Homo sapiens: one gene and its partner. The protein of the gene in region 2 interacts with the protein of the main gene of each other region in a pairwise test. Each region holds a gene or a part of one and is shown on either strand. Other genes may lie near its edges.

What was found.
Region 1: the proteins of DMC1 (region 2) and PSMA3 interact in binary tests that used the Homo sapiens proteins (3 or more experiments, as listed by UniProt).

Annotation. Positions count from the first base shown.
Region 1 is NC_000014.9:58,261,832-58,268,859, reverse strand, and holds part of PSMA3 (proteasome subunit alpha type-3), read right to left. Parts: intron 5,156-7,028; coding exon 5,090-5,155; intron 3,496-5,089; exon of another isoform or gene 1,467-3,495; intron 1,387-1,466; coding exon 1,340-1,386; intron 1-1,339. UniProt on the Homo sapiens protein: Component of the 20S core proteasome complex involved in the proteolytic degradation of most intracellular proteins. This complex plays numerous essential roles within the cell by associating with different regulatory particles.
Region 2 is NC_000022.11:38,518,441-38,525,204, forward strand, and holds the end of DMC1 (meiotic recombination protein DMC1/LIM15 homolog), read right to left. Parts: intron 3,285-6,764; coding exon 3,168-3,284; intron 1,650-3,167; coding exon 1,580-1,649; 3' UTR 508-1,579; downstream 1-507. UniProt on the Homo sapiens protein: Participates in meiotic recombination, specifically in homologous strand assimilation, which is required for the resolution of meiotic double-strand breaks.

The DNA of each region.
Region 1 (7,028 bases), on a different chromosome or scaffold from region 2:
TTCTAAAACCTTGCTATAATATGAGAGGATCTTGATTTTCTACAACTAAGTAAAAGATAACATGCTGCTCCATTTTCTTAAATGATGAAGGGATGGCTTTCCTAACATGGAACACTTAACAGATGACTACCATTATACCTAAATATAAAAGATGGTAAGAACTGATTTCCAGAAGGACTTCAAAGGATTGGTTCGGTGAAGGAAACAGAGTATATCATGATAACATACTATACAATTCAAGGAAGATATCTGACTTCCTTTCTTAGCAGCTCTGCTGCATGTTGGTTCCTAGTGTTGCCATTATTAACTGACAATCATAGAATGGCTTCTGCTTGCTTCACAACTGAAACTAGGAGGGCGGAGGGGAGGAGGTGGCAAGAGGGGTAAAGGCAGTAGCAGTAATGATGGACCGGTTAATAAGAGACTCTGAGTGTGATGTAAATAGTATGTTTATTAAACAATAGAGCCCATTGGAATTTTTTTCTTCCACGTATTGTTAGATGTAAAACCTGATACACTACCATACAGACAGGTGATTGACTAGACCTTGTTTATGTAGTTCTAATGTGGAATACTTAGAGTTGTTATGAATTACGATTATCCATAACTTTTGAATCTAAAAAGCTGGCTACACAACGTATTTTGTTGGAATCTTTTTGTAATACCAAATGTCTACACTCTTTGATCTAGAGAATCACAAAATTTTAGAAACATCACTACCCAGGTTAATTGACTTTTTTATTGTTTACTGTCCAAATACCTGTTACATATTAATAGTATTCTACTTTATATACCTGTAATAAACTATTCAGGGTTTCTTAAGCTGGTTGTTGAAATGTTTTGTAATACTGCTCTTCTTACCTTGTTATAGGAACTTTTATAATAAACCTGAAAAAGTGAAACATATCTTTCCCAAATAAATAGCAGATTATATAAATGAGCCAGCTTCATGGATCATGTATTGAAATAATTAGTTGTAACCTATAAAGTTTGTAAGCATTCTTACAATAGAGGCAATCTTAAGATTACTATTATTAGGACTTAAGAGATTTGAGAAGTTGGGAGCTAACAAATTAAGACCCTAATGGTATATGTCCTTAACCTGTAACAGGAGTTTATTTTGTCAAGCTATTTTTCCCATCCTATTCATTACTACTAAAAAATATTGCTTAAAAACATTTTCTTCCTTCGTGAGGCTTCTTAGAATGTTAAATTTACCTTCTAAAAATTATACACTAAGTTATTTTACAGGAAAACAGCTTCTTAGGATTAATGTAATATATATATGCAAAGGTCAAATGAAATATTTTTGTGGATGGTAAGAAAAATTTCAACTTACATTTTTGCAACTTCTTTAACGATATCACGGCAGGTCATTTCTTTCATCTATAGAAAATAAAATGTATACTGTTCATCAGAAGAACATTTTCCACTTGTGTAATAACTATTTTCACTTTTATACTCAGATATAAAACCAAGGAAAATAACCTAAAGTCTGAAAAAGACCAGAATCGAAGTTTCCTGATTCATATTTTAATGTTTTGAAATTTATACTCCAGGCTGGGTGCAGTGGCTTGTGCCTGTAATCCCAGCACTTTGGGAGGCCGAGGCGGCCGGATTGCCTGAAGTCAGAAGTTCGAGACCAGCCTGACCAACATGGTGAAACCCTGTCTCTACTTAAAAATACAAAAGAGCTGGGCATGGAGGTGGTGCGCGCCTGTAACCCTAGCTACTCGGGAGGCTGAGGCCTAAGAATCTCTTGAACCCAGGAGGCAGAGGTTGTAGTGAGCCGGGATCACGCCACTGCACTCTAGCCTGGGCGACAGAGAGAGAGACTGTCTAAAAAAGGAAAAGAAAAAAATTTATACGCCAAAAAAGATATTCTGAGATAACCTGTAGTTACCACTAACTTTGTGACAAAATTATAAAAATCCACAGCCATCTATGAATCTGTAGGCAGACCTGAAGTTTGAACGACTGGTGAAGACATCTGATTTTCTTTATAGCCAAGTTAGGATAACAAAATGCAAACAAGTCATTAATATTTACTATATGCAAGATACAGAAAGATGAAGGAAGGAGTAAGAAGTTATCCTTCGTGGAACTATTCAAAGCAAAAATGCAAAATACCAGGGAAAGCTTTGAAGAACCAAGATTTGAGCAGGTTCTTAGAATATAGATTGGATTGGATTTGATTTCAAGAAAGATGAACGTGTAAAGCAGAAGTGGGAAGCCAAAAACTTTTTTCCAAATTAGAATTAAGCATTCTTTCAATGAACATTTGGAAATCAAGGTAGAAAAATATCCCTAGGGCCTAGCTGAGGAGTCTGTATGTTGTTGGGTTTTGATAGTAACCAGTCCAAGATTTTGTTATTAGACGTGGGTTTCTGAATAGACAGGCATTTCTGAACAGACATGACAGGATCAAAACAATGTTTGAGCAAACTGCCCTTCATCTACTGTGGATATGTTGGGGGATGATGGAATATAGTGAAAGATAATGGGTGCTCATACAGCAGTCTAGACTTAAGGTGATTCAACTACTATATATTAAACTAGATTATCTTTTATTTTTTAATTTTGAAATCTGGATGCTCAAGCTCTGCCTGCACAACCACATGAGGAAGAAGGAACAATGACAACAAAAATAACACTAAATTTAAATTTAAGAGTACTACTTTTAGGAAATAGACAAACCATTATTTGGGTACAACTAAAGGCAACTGGCATGGACTCAAATATTTTGGGGAAGAAAAAGACTAAAAGTTCTAAGGAAGAAAATGCGAACCTTGATAGTTTGAAATAGTTAAAAAGACAGTGTAGAAACTGCTTAGGCAGTTTGATTATGGACTATTAGATGATACTTGGGTCTGATAATGGTATAAGGAGAATAAAGTATTTAGGGATCCAATATTACGCCTGCAGCTTTTTCCAAATAGTTCATGGGGGAGGGGGATGTGTAAGTGGTTAACTGAAGTCTAACTAGATAGGTTTGTTGTAAGCTTAGGATGTTTACAGTTCTTCATGTTAAGTTGAGCGTGATGGGAAGGGAAAGAATGCTGATCTTTAAATTTTTGTCCTTAGTTAAGTTCTGTATTTAGTGAATTAATTGCATCCTAAAAAGTCAAACTTGAAAAGCACATTTTAAATGGCAAATCTATTTTTTACATGTTTGTGAAGTTTTTATTTTTTAGTAAACAGACCATCAGAAGAGAACAATGGTACAGAGCAGGGGTCAGCAGATGGATTTTGTAAAGCATCAACTTGTAAATATTTTCAAGTTTATTAGCTGTATGGCTCTGGTTTCTGTTCCCTGTTCCAAATGTTAAAGTCTACTGTTGTATTCTAAAAGCAGCCATGGACTGAATGTAGCTGTGTTCCAATAAAACTTACACAAAAGCAGGCAGTGGGCCATAATTTGCAACACCTGATTCACAGCATAATTTTGTCACAAACTGAAAGTGTTCCTCAATTAAAGTGATTTTTTTTTCTTGATTTTTCTCTGGGATTTATTGTTTTTCCCATTCCTTGCTAGGATTTAACTACAGAAAGACAGATAGTAACTGCTCTAAATATTCTAATTTCCTTTATTTTTTTGAGATAAGGTGTCGCTCTGTTGCCCTGGCTGGAGTGCAGTGGCGTGATCATAGCTCACTGTAGCCCCCAACTCCTGGCTGGGGCTCAAACAGTCCTCCTGCCTCAGCCTCCCAAGTAGCTGGGACTACAGGCACGCACCACCTCACCTCGCTAACATTTTGTTTTGGGAGATAGGGTCTTACTCTTTTGCCCAGCCTGGTCTTGGAACTACTGGGCTCAAGCAGTCCTCCCAACTTGGCCTACCAAACTGGTAGGATTACAGGGGTAATCCCCCTCAACTGACATAAATATTCTAATTTTCAAATTTCCATATAATAGTATGGAGAGATGAAAACAAAAGGAAAAGAGTAGAAGATAGGAACCTAGCATCATACTAGTAAGTGTGCAATGGAAAAGAACATAGGTCTAAGACTCATAAGGTCTGGATACTGTTCAGAACCAGCTGATTCTGTGGTCCTATGCAGTGTGTTTAATCTGCAGTTGAGCTTGGGCTAAATGACCTCTAAGATCCTTTTGTCAGCTTTACTAAAATACGAAACAAATTAGGTTTTATAGGGGGTTCTAGAACTTAGCATTGTATAAATGCCAAGCACTAATAAGTATTTTCTAGAAGCTGGTCTTAAATAAGTTGAATGAGTAATTAGTTGAGCAGGGTTCTAGTACAGCATTAACATTAAATGTATGTGAAATTGTATCTCACTTCAGTTTACCAAAACACTGATAAATGGTATGCCTGCTTTTTAGGCAAGTTTCTGACAGGTAATCAATAATATTGAAACAGTATCCATGAAGTCTTTAAGTTGATCAACGCATGGCTAAAAGGAAAACCAAGTTTTTAAGAAAACTTTTTCACACTAATAGCTGAATTTTGTGAAAGAAAAAGTGGGTAGTCGTAAGAGTGTAGGCTTTATGCCTTACCTGGCTAGGAGCAAAGCTAAGAGAACCGGTGGAGCACAGCCAGACATAAAAGCTGTGTTCCAAAGAAAGAATATAGGAAAAATATAACTTTTTATTAACTCAAAATTTTAAACAAAATTTTCAAACTAGAGCTCACAGAGATTCATAAATAGGTTTCAAGGATTTTGTGAAATCATATCAAAAGTTGTGTTTTTCTAGATTGAGGCTTTATAGCAGTTATTCAGAATCTATAAAGGGATGTATAACACAACTCTACAGATAATATGTTACCAGCTTTCCCATTCAGTGACTTAGCAGCTTCATAAACTCTCAACATCAAACCACACTATATCCTTACACCGAGCTTCCCCAGCCACAGGCCACATGGGGCCAAACACAAATTCGTAAACTTTCTTAACACATGATGAGATTTTTTTTTAAGCTCATCAGCTATCATTAGTGTTGGTGTATTTTATGTGTGGCCCAGGGAAGCCAAATGATTGGACATCCCTGCCTTAGACTGAAATGTCTGTGGTGATAAAATTTCACTGCATTAGGATGACGACATAGTAAAAATTCAAGCATTAATTATTACCTGAAGCTTCTCTATTTCCGTCTTTGCAGCTTGCCTGGCTTTGCCGATGGCACAGCCCCAATAACCCTATTTAGAAAAAAATATATATAATCACTGAATTAGTACACTATCATATGTAATTAATGACTACTAATGTTTCTATAACCTAGTGAAAGGATGCTAAATGACTTTTAAAAGCAAGTATAGAAAAATATAGTCAAACACATTCTGATGAATGCCAAAGGGCTCAAAAATACTAAAATACCAAACAATTCCAAAACAACCTGTATTTTTAATAAAGGTATATCCAAAAATATGTAAATTATGTAATCATATACACTTTAAGACATTTTGGGGAACAGGAACGGAAAAGATTTTAGCACTATGACAATGAAAAATGAAATTATATATTCCTGAGAGACAGAAATAAAGTTAATTCCTATGAGTTCAGTACTCTAAACCCCCAATTTTATTATTTTGTAAATTTTTTTAAAGATAAGGATGCACAGCTGGGTGTGGTGGGTCATGCCTGTAATCCCAGCACTATGGAAGGCCAAGGTGGGCAGATCACCTCAGGTCAGGAGTTGGAGACCGGCCTGGCCAACATTGTAAAACCCTGTCTCTACTAAAAATACAAAAAAATTAGCTAGGTGTGGTGGCAGGTGCCTGTAATGCCAGCTACTCCAGAGGCTGAGGCAGGAGAATCGCTTGAATCTGGGAGGCAGAGGTTGCAGTGAGCTGAGACCGCGCCACTGCACTCCAGCCTGGGCAACAGAGTGAGACTCCATCAAAAAAAAAAAAAAAAAGGATGTACACATATATACTTCTGTTACAGCAAAATATATTTAAGAATCTTCATTTTCTTCAATTAGTAAAAACGACAAAAATGTAAGGATAAGAAAACAGTTAAGAAACGGTAACAGGCCGGGTGCAGTGGCTCACACAAAGTGCTTGTAATCCCAGCACTTTGGGAATCTGAGGCACGTGGATCACTTGAGGCCAGGAGTTCCAGACCAGCCTGGGCAACATGGTGAAAGTCTGTCTCTACTAAAAATACAAAAATTAGCCAGGTGTGATGGTACAGGCCTGTAATCCCAGCTACTTGAGAGGCTGAGGCACAAGAATCCCTTGAATCCGGGAGGCAGAGGTTACAGTGAGCCAAGATTGCACCACTGCAGTCCAGCCTGGGCAACTGAGCAAGACTCTGTCTCAAAAAAAAAAAAAAATGGTAATAATTTAGGGAAAGCTCTTAGAAATCACATTTAAACCTTCTCTTTAAAAGGGAAGGCAGGGCAAGGTGGCTCACACCTATAATCCCAGCATTTTGGGAGACCAAGGTGGGCGGATTACTTGAGATCAGGAGTTCGAGACCAGCCTGGCTAACATGGTGAAACCTCGTCTCTACTGAAAATACAAAAATTAGCCGGGTGTGGTGATGCATGCTTCTAATCCCAGCCTACTCGGGAGGCTGAGGCAGAATTGCTTGAACTGGGGAGGTGGAGGTTTGGCGCCACTGCACTCCAGTCTGGGTGACAGAGCGAGACGCTGTCTGAAACAAAATTAGGTCCGGCACTGTGGCTCACGCCTGTAATCCTTGCACTTTGGCAGGCCGGGGTGGGCAGACCACCTGAGGTCAGGAGTTGGAGACCAGCTGGCCAACATGGCAAAACCCCATCTGTACTAAAAATACAAAAATTAACCAGGCATGGTAGTACATGCCTGTAATCCCAGCTAATCAGGAGGCTGAGACAGGAGAATTGCTTGAACCTAGGAGGCGGAAGAGGTTGCAGTGAACCAAGATCGAGCCACTGCACTCCAGCCTGGGAGACAGAGTGACACTCCATCTTATAAATAAATAAAATAAAAGGGATGACATGGCTGGACATCGATGCTCACGCCTGTAGTCCCAGCATTTTGGGAGTCCAAGGCAGGAGGACTGCTTAAGGCCAGGAGTTTGAGA
Region 2 (6,764 bases):
ATTAATAATAATTAGTGAGTGAATAATTTCATGAATAATCAAATACCTTTTGTAACAAATGGTACTTCGAATACTTGAATTTTCTTCTCTTTCCTTCTTTTTTTTTTTGAGACAGAGTCTCACTCTGTGACCCAGGCTGGAGTGCAGTGGCTCTATCTTGGCTCAATGCAACCTCCACCTCCTGGGCTCCAGCAATCCTCCCACTTCAGCTTCCTGAGTAGCTGGGACCTCAGGCACACACCAGCACGCCTGGCTAATTTTTTTGTATTTTTGTAGAGACGGGGTTTTGCCATATTGCCCAGGCTGGTCTTCAAACTCCTGGGCTCAAGCAATTCACTCGCCTTGGCCTCCCAAAGAGCTGGGATTATAGGTGTGAGCCACCACGCCCAGCCCTGGAATTTTCATGTAAGTTGATGTAACATTAAAGTCTATAAAGATTGAAGTCTATAAAGCTCTTCATTGTATATTGTCATTAGTATATTAATTTTTACATATTTTCACCATACATGCATTTTGAAAACAGGATTTTATTTGTTTAACAATCAAAATAATATCTTTTACACATTTCTAAGATTAGTATTCAGAAATTTTACATTTAAATTAATTTTAACATTTTAAAAAAGTTTTTTTTTTTTTTTTGAGACGGAGTCTCACTCTGTCACCTAGGCTGGAGTGCAGTGGTGCCATCTTGGCTCACCGCAATCTCTGCCTCCTGGGTTCAAGCAATTCTCCTGCCTCAGCCTCCAGAGTAGCTGGGATTACAAGCACATGCCACTGCACTTGGCTAATTTTTGTATTTTTAGTAGAGATGGGGTTTCTCCATGTTGGCCAGGCTGGTCTTGAACTCCTGACCTCAAGTGATCCACCTGCCTCGGCCTCCCAAAGTGCTGGGATTACAGGTGTGAGCCACCACGCCCAGCCATAAATACATTTTTTAAAAGTAATTTCTGCTTGTCAAAGTCAAATGATTTAAAATTTGGCTTAATTTAATGTCTGTTTTCTGTTGCTATAAAGGTGAATATGCAGTTTGATATTATAAATAGAAAGAGCTTTTGTGTGTGTGTCCTATAAACATTCCTCCCTTAAATCCTCTTGTGGAAAAACATCTAGCTATGTAAGTCAGTGGCACTATACCCTAGAAAAATGGTGAAGGGAAAGTCCTTAGGAGAATGGGACATTTCTGAACTCTTAGACTTTCTGTTTAGTGGCTCACTTTGAAAAGTGAAAGGGAGGGAATCACGTACTCCTTTCCCAACAACTAGTTTTCCATAGGTATATATACATACACAGAGTGAGAGAATTTCAATAGGTATATATATCTACTATATATGTCAGGTATACACACACAAACACACACACACACAAACATACATATACATATCCCTGAATTTACATACAATGTATAGTTATCATAAATCAGGGACTTTTAAGATAAATATAAGATTTAAATCTCTTTGCTGACTTTTCTTTAGTAACATGTGGGAAAAAACCTCTATTTCAAGATGTGAAATTGGAGACTGCTTTTCCATTTCTTCAGCTCCTAATAAGCACTAAGAAGCAATTTGCATCAATTCACCACCTACTCCTTGGCATCCCCAATTCCTCCAGCAGTTATTGCGAAGGTGGCTTCATTTTCAGGCATCTCAGGACTAACAGAATACAAGGGAACAGAAGTTTATAAAAAGCTCTATTTCTATAAATACTATATTCATGTCACAGGCATTATGTGCCCATCAGTCTGAATCTCCAGAGACATCTCAGAGTTGGTACAACCAAATGTGGCCTACAGAACTTACCCACAAGTATTATTAACCCTCACAAACATTTATTGAGCAACTTCTATATATAAAGTTCTGAATGTCAAGAAAAATTACTCCAAACTTGGAAACAGGTGAAAGGATAACTGGATGTTCTTTCATTTATTTATTTTAATTTTTTTTTTTTGGCGAAGTCTTGCTCTTGTCCCCCAGGCAATGGTGAGATCTCGTCTCACTGCAACCTCTGCCTCCTGGGTTCAAGCCATTCTCCTGCCTCAGCCTCCTGAGTAGCTGGGATTACAGGTGCCTGCCACCACGCCCGGCTAATTTTTGTATTTTTAGTAGAGACGGGGTTTCACCATGTTGGCCAGGCTGGTCTTGAACTCCTGACCTCAGGTGATCCGCCTGCCTCGGCCTCCCAAAGTACTGGGATTACAGGCGTGAGCCACTGCGCCTGGCCAACTGGATGTTCTTTTAGTATAGTGTCAGGCATTGTATAGCAGCCCCTTAGAGGTTTATCTGATTCTATAGGGGTATGCACCTTTCTTATGACTAGACTAATGTAGGAGCAAACTGTAAAATACTTTGAAATAAATTAAAAGATTACTGAGTACCTTCCATGGAAACATAGGTTGTCTAGCACATCCTCCCAGGTTATCCAATTCTTTTTTGTTTTTTGTTTTTGTTTTTTTTTTTTGAGACGGAGTCTCACTCTGTCGCCCGGGCTGGAGTGCAGTGGCGCGATCTCGGCTAGTCTCAAACTTCTGGCCTCAGGTGATCCGCCCACCTCGGCCTCCCAAAAGTGCTAGGATTACAGGTGTGAGCCACTGTGCCGGGCCAAAATCTGTAATTCTTAATTAAACACGTAAAGTGCTGAGAAAGAATATAGGGTATAATATACTGAGTAGCCTAGACTGTAAGGGTTAGGGAAAGGTTCCCTGAGAAAGTGATGTTTAAACTGAAACCTGAAAAACAAATAGAGTTAACCTGGCAAAAAGAAAGGAGGATATGTTCCCATACTTGATACTTACCTTGTATTTAACACAATTTAATTGGAATTGATGATTTCATTATCTAGGTGTATGCTTTGAAAGGTCAGGGACCAAGTCTATGTGTCAATAGAATCCCTCAATCCCTAGTACCTAGTAACAGTAGGGACTTCCCAATAAATTGAATAATTTTTTAGAAAGAAATTCAAACACACAGCATCTGGCAGTAATAATTACAGCCTTGTGGTGGCTCACACCTATAGTCCCAGCACTTTGGGAGCCCAAGGTGGGAGGATTGCTTGAGCCTAGGAGTTTGAGACCAGCTCGGGCAACATGGCAAAACCCCGTCTCTACACACACACACACACACACACACACACACACACACACACACACACACACAAAATAAAAAAAAATTTACCTGTCATAAATCTTGGCAATTCTGAGCTCTCCTCTTCCCTTTCGCAAGCTTATTCTTGTTGTTGAAGCATGAGCCAGAATGTGTCCCCCAATGGGTTTTTTGGGATCTGCCTGAAAGCTGAATTAATAAAATACTCTTTCAGGTTTCATCATATGGACTATATATGGCAATATCTGCAATTACAAGGCAATCTTTCTGTGGTGGATGTCAGGAGTTGGAATAAGTGTATATTCTAAACAAGCAGAGGCTTGTTCATAAACTAAGGAGTGAGGTGAGTTTTGGAGCTGCTATATACCCCATCTAGTCTAGGCTTTTGAGATTCCTATGATAAATAGTTTATATTTTGTTTGACTTTTTTTTTTTGAGATGGAGTCTAGCTGTGTCGCCCAGGCTGGAGTGCAGTGGTGTGATCTCACTCACTGCAACCTCTGCCTCCTGGGTTCAAGCGATTCTCCTGTCTCAGCCTCCCAGGTAGCTGGGATTACAGGTGCCCACCACCACGCCCAGCTAATTTTTTGTATTTTTAGTAGAGATGAGGTTTCACTGTGTTGGCCAGGCTGGTCTCGAACTCCTGACCTCATGATCTGCCCGCCTGGGCCTCCCAAAGTGCTGGGGTTACAAGCACGAGCCACTGTGCCCAGCCTGACTTTAAAAAATGAGATTACTGGCTGGGCTCGGTGGCTCGTGCCTGTAATCCCAGCACTTTGGGAGGTCGAGGTGGGTGGATCACTGAGGTCAGAAGTTCGAGACTAGCCTGGCCAACATGGCAAAAACCCATCTCTACTAAAAATACAAAAATTAGCCAGGTGTGGTGGCGTGTGCCTGATGCTTGTAATCCCAGCTACTCTGGAGGCTGAGGCAAGAGAATTGTTTGAACCCAAGAGGTGGAGGCTGCAGTTAGCTGAGATCAGCCACTGCATTCCAGCCTGGGCAACAGAATAAGACTCCTTCTCAAAAAACAAACAAACAAAAACAGAAAGAAAAAAAGAAAATGTGGGCTTAGAAATCATCAATAAGGGAACAGCACAAACTAAAGGTTATACTTGATCAAAATAAACTATGATATAGAATAATAGCTTCAGTTCTGAAAGAATATAGTTACAAGTCAATTCAAGTTGTGCTTGCTCCATTAAAGTGTTCATGATTCTGGTTTTACTCTAAGCTTCAGGCTTGGTATAGCAAGGATGTAGCTGATTGGCATGAGGTTAAATATATTTAGACTGTAGGTTGGTCGGGATAAGAAGCTCTTTGGTAAAGGAGTTTGCTGAGATAAACTGCTACTTGATTAAATGGCTCAGAGGTTAGGACCAGAAGACCCCTGGTTGGTGCTGAATAGGATTAAGATTCAGTAGAAACTGGACACTATGGCACATATCTGTAGTCCCAGCTACTTGAGAGGCTGAAGCAGGAGGACCACTTGAGCCCAGGAATTCAGAGGCTAGCCTGGGCACCATAGTGAGGCCCTCTTAAAAACATTTTTAAAAAAATGTTTTAAATGCAAATGCAGCAGGTCCAACATAGGAACAAGGACAAAGAGTTAGTTTTGGAGTGAACCACTATCAAGAAAGTAGTAGCCAGACAGTTGAGACTAACGGCGGCAGTTAAGAAGTCAGAAAGCTGGGTTGCTTTGCCAGGCACCTGACATGGTAGTAAAGCAATAAAGCCTTCTCAGTTGGATAAAATAGCTAGATAAGTGAGTTGTCTCTATAATGCTTACAGATCGATGCCACTTAACTTTTCAGGTCACCCTACCTTACAGGTGGTTCTTCATGGTTTTAAAATAATCTTATGTTCTATATAGATGGGCTGCTTGAGACCCTGAGGATATTCTCAACTGAGCTATGAACTCCGAGCCTGCAAACACTGTATTTATGCTTCTGTAATGTACTTTTCATGTTCTGCCTTTAGTACTATTATTTATTTACTTATTGTATTCCTTCTCAATTCCTCTCTTATTCTCTATCACTAAGCTCCTTAAGGGCAGACTATATTGTGTTTAGTTCTGCACAACCAGGCACACAGTGGGTGTTCAAAATTGTTTTTTCAGCTACGTGGGAGGCTGAGGCAGGAGAATCGCTTGAACTCGGAAGGCGGAGGCTGCAGTGAGCTGAGATTGCGCCACTGTACTCTAGCCTGGGTGACAGAGTGGGACTCTGTCTCAGAAAAAAAAAAATAGTTTTTTCAGCTTAAGATATTTATGCTACAACAATTCCAAGGGGAATATTGGACTGCAAAAAGATTGGTGTTTTCACAGAAGTTAAGAAAAAATAAAATTGAGACCAGTTGGAAATTTCTATCAAAAGGAGCTAAGAACGGATAGTCAAGGTTAGCTAAATGGGCAGAGAGAAGTCTGAACACAATGCTACTGCTTCTCCCAGCTAGTCTCTCAATGCTGCTCATTCTCCTGTGTGAGCATGGTTGGCTTTACTGCCTCACCTTCAGTAGTCTCCTTAAGCCCCCTTTTCCATTCTTATCCCCTCACCTTGGATGACATTGCCTGCTACTTTATAAAGAAAATAAGGGCTTGGCCGGGCACAGTGGCTCATGCCTGTAATCCCAGCACTTTGGGAGGCTGAGGCAGGCAGATTGCAAGGTCAGGAGTTTGAGACCAGCCTGGCCAATATGGTGAAACCTTGTCTCTACTAAAAATACAAAAATTAGCTGGGTGTGGTGGCGTGCACCTGCAGTCCCAGCTACTCAGGAAGCTGAGGCAGAAGAATCACTTGAACCCAGGAGGCAGAGGTTGCAGTGAGCTGATCGCGCCACCGGTGGCCCTCCAGCCCAGGCGACAGAGCGAGATTCCGTCTCAAAAAAATAAAATAAAACAAAATAAAATAAAATAAAACTAATAAATAAAAAAGAAAATAAGGGCTCTCAGGAGGACACTTCCTCAACTTCTTCTTTCTGTCCACCACCTATATACTTAACTACAGTTGTACTCATGTTTTCTCCTTCCCTCTAAAACTTCCTTTTTTCTGATTTCAGAAAGTCTTCTTATCCTTGATGACTTTGCACACATTACTCCCTCTGAAATGAAAGCTCCTTTCCCCACCGTGTCTGCTCATTCAGCTCCTACACAGCCTTCAAGTGTCCTCCCTTCTAGGAACCCTTGCCTGGTTCCCTGAAACAGTAGAAAACTGGCCCCCTCTGTGCTTTCCAACAGTCTGTATTCTTTTATTAAAGCACACTACAGGTGGGCGCAGTAGCACTTTGGGAGGCCGAGGCGGGCGGATCACCTGAGGTCAGGGGTTCAAGATCAGCCTGACCAACATGGAGAAACCCCGTCTCTACTAAAAATACAAAATTAGCCGGGTGTGGTGGCACATGCCCGTAATCCCAGCTACTCAGGAGGCGGAGGCAGGAGAATCGCTTGAACCTGGGAGGCAGAGGTTGTGGTGAGCTGAGATCGCACCATTGCACTCCAGCCTGGGCAACAAGAGCCAGACTACGTCTCAAAATAAATAAATAAATTAATTAATTAATTAAGCACACTACATGGTAATTTTAAATGTATGGGTCTTATTCCCCAACTATACTCTAAATATCTGTTCATCTTTGAAACTCCAGCGCCTGGAAAAGTGCCTATAATATACAGGG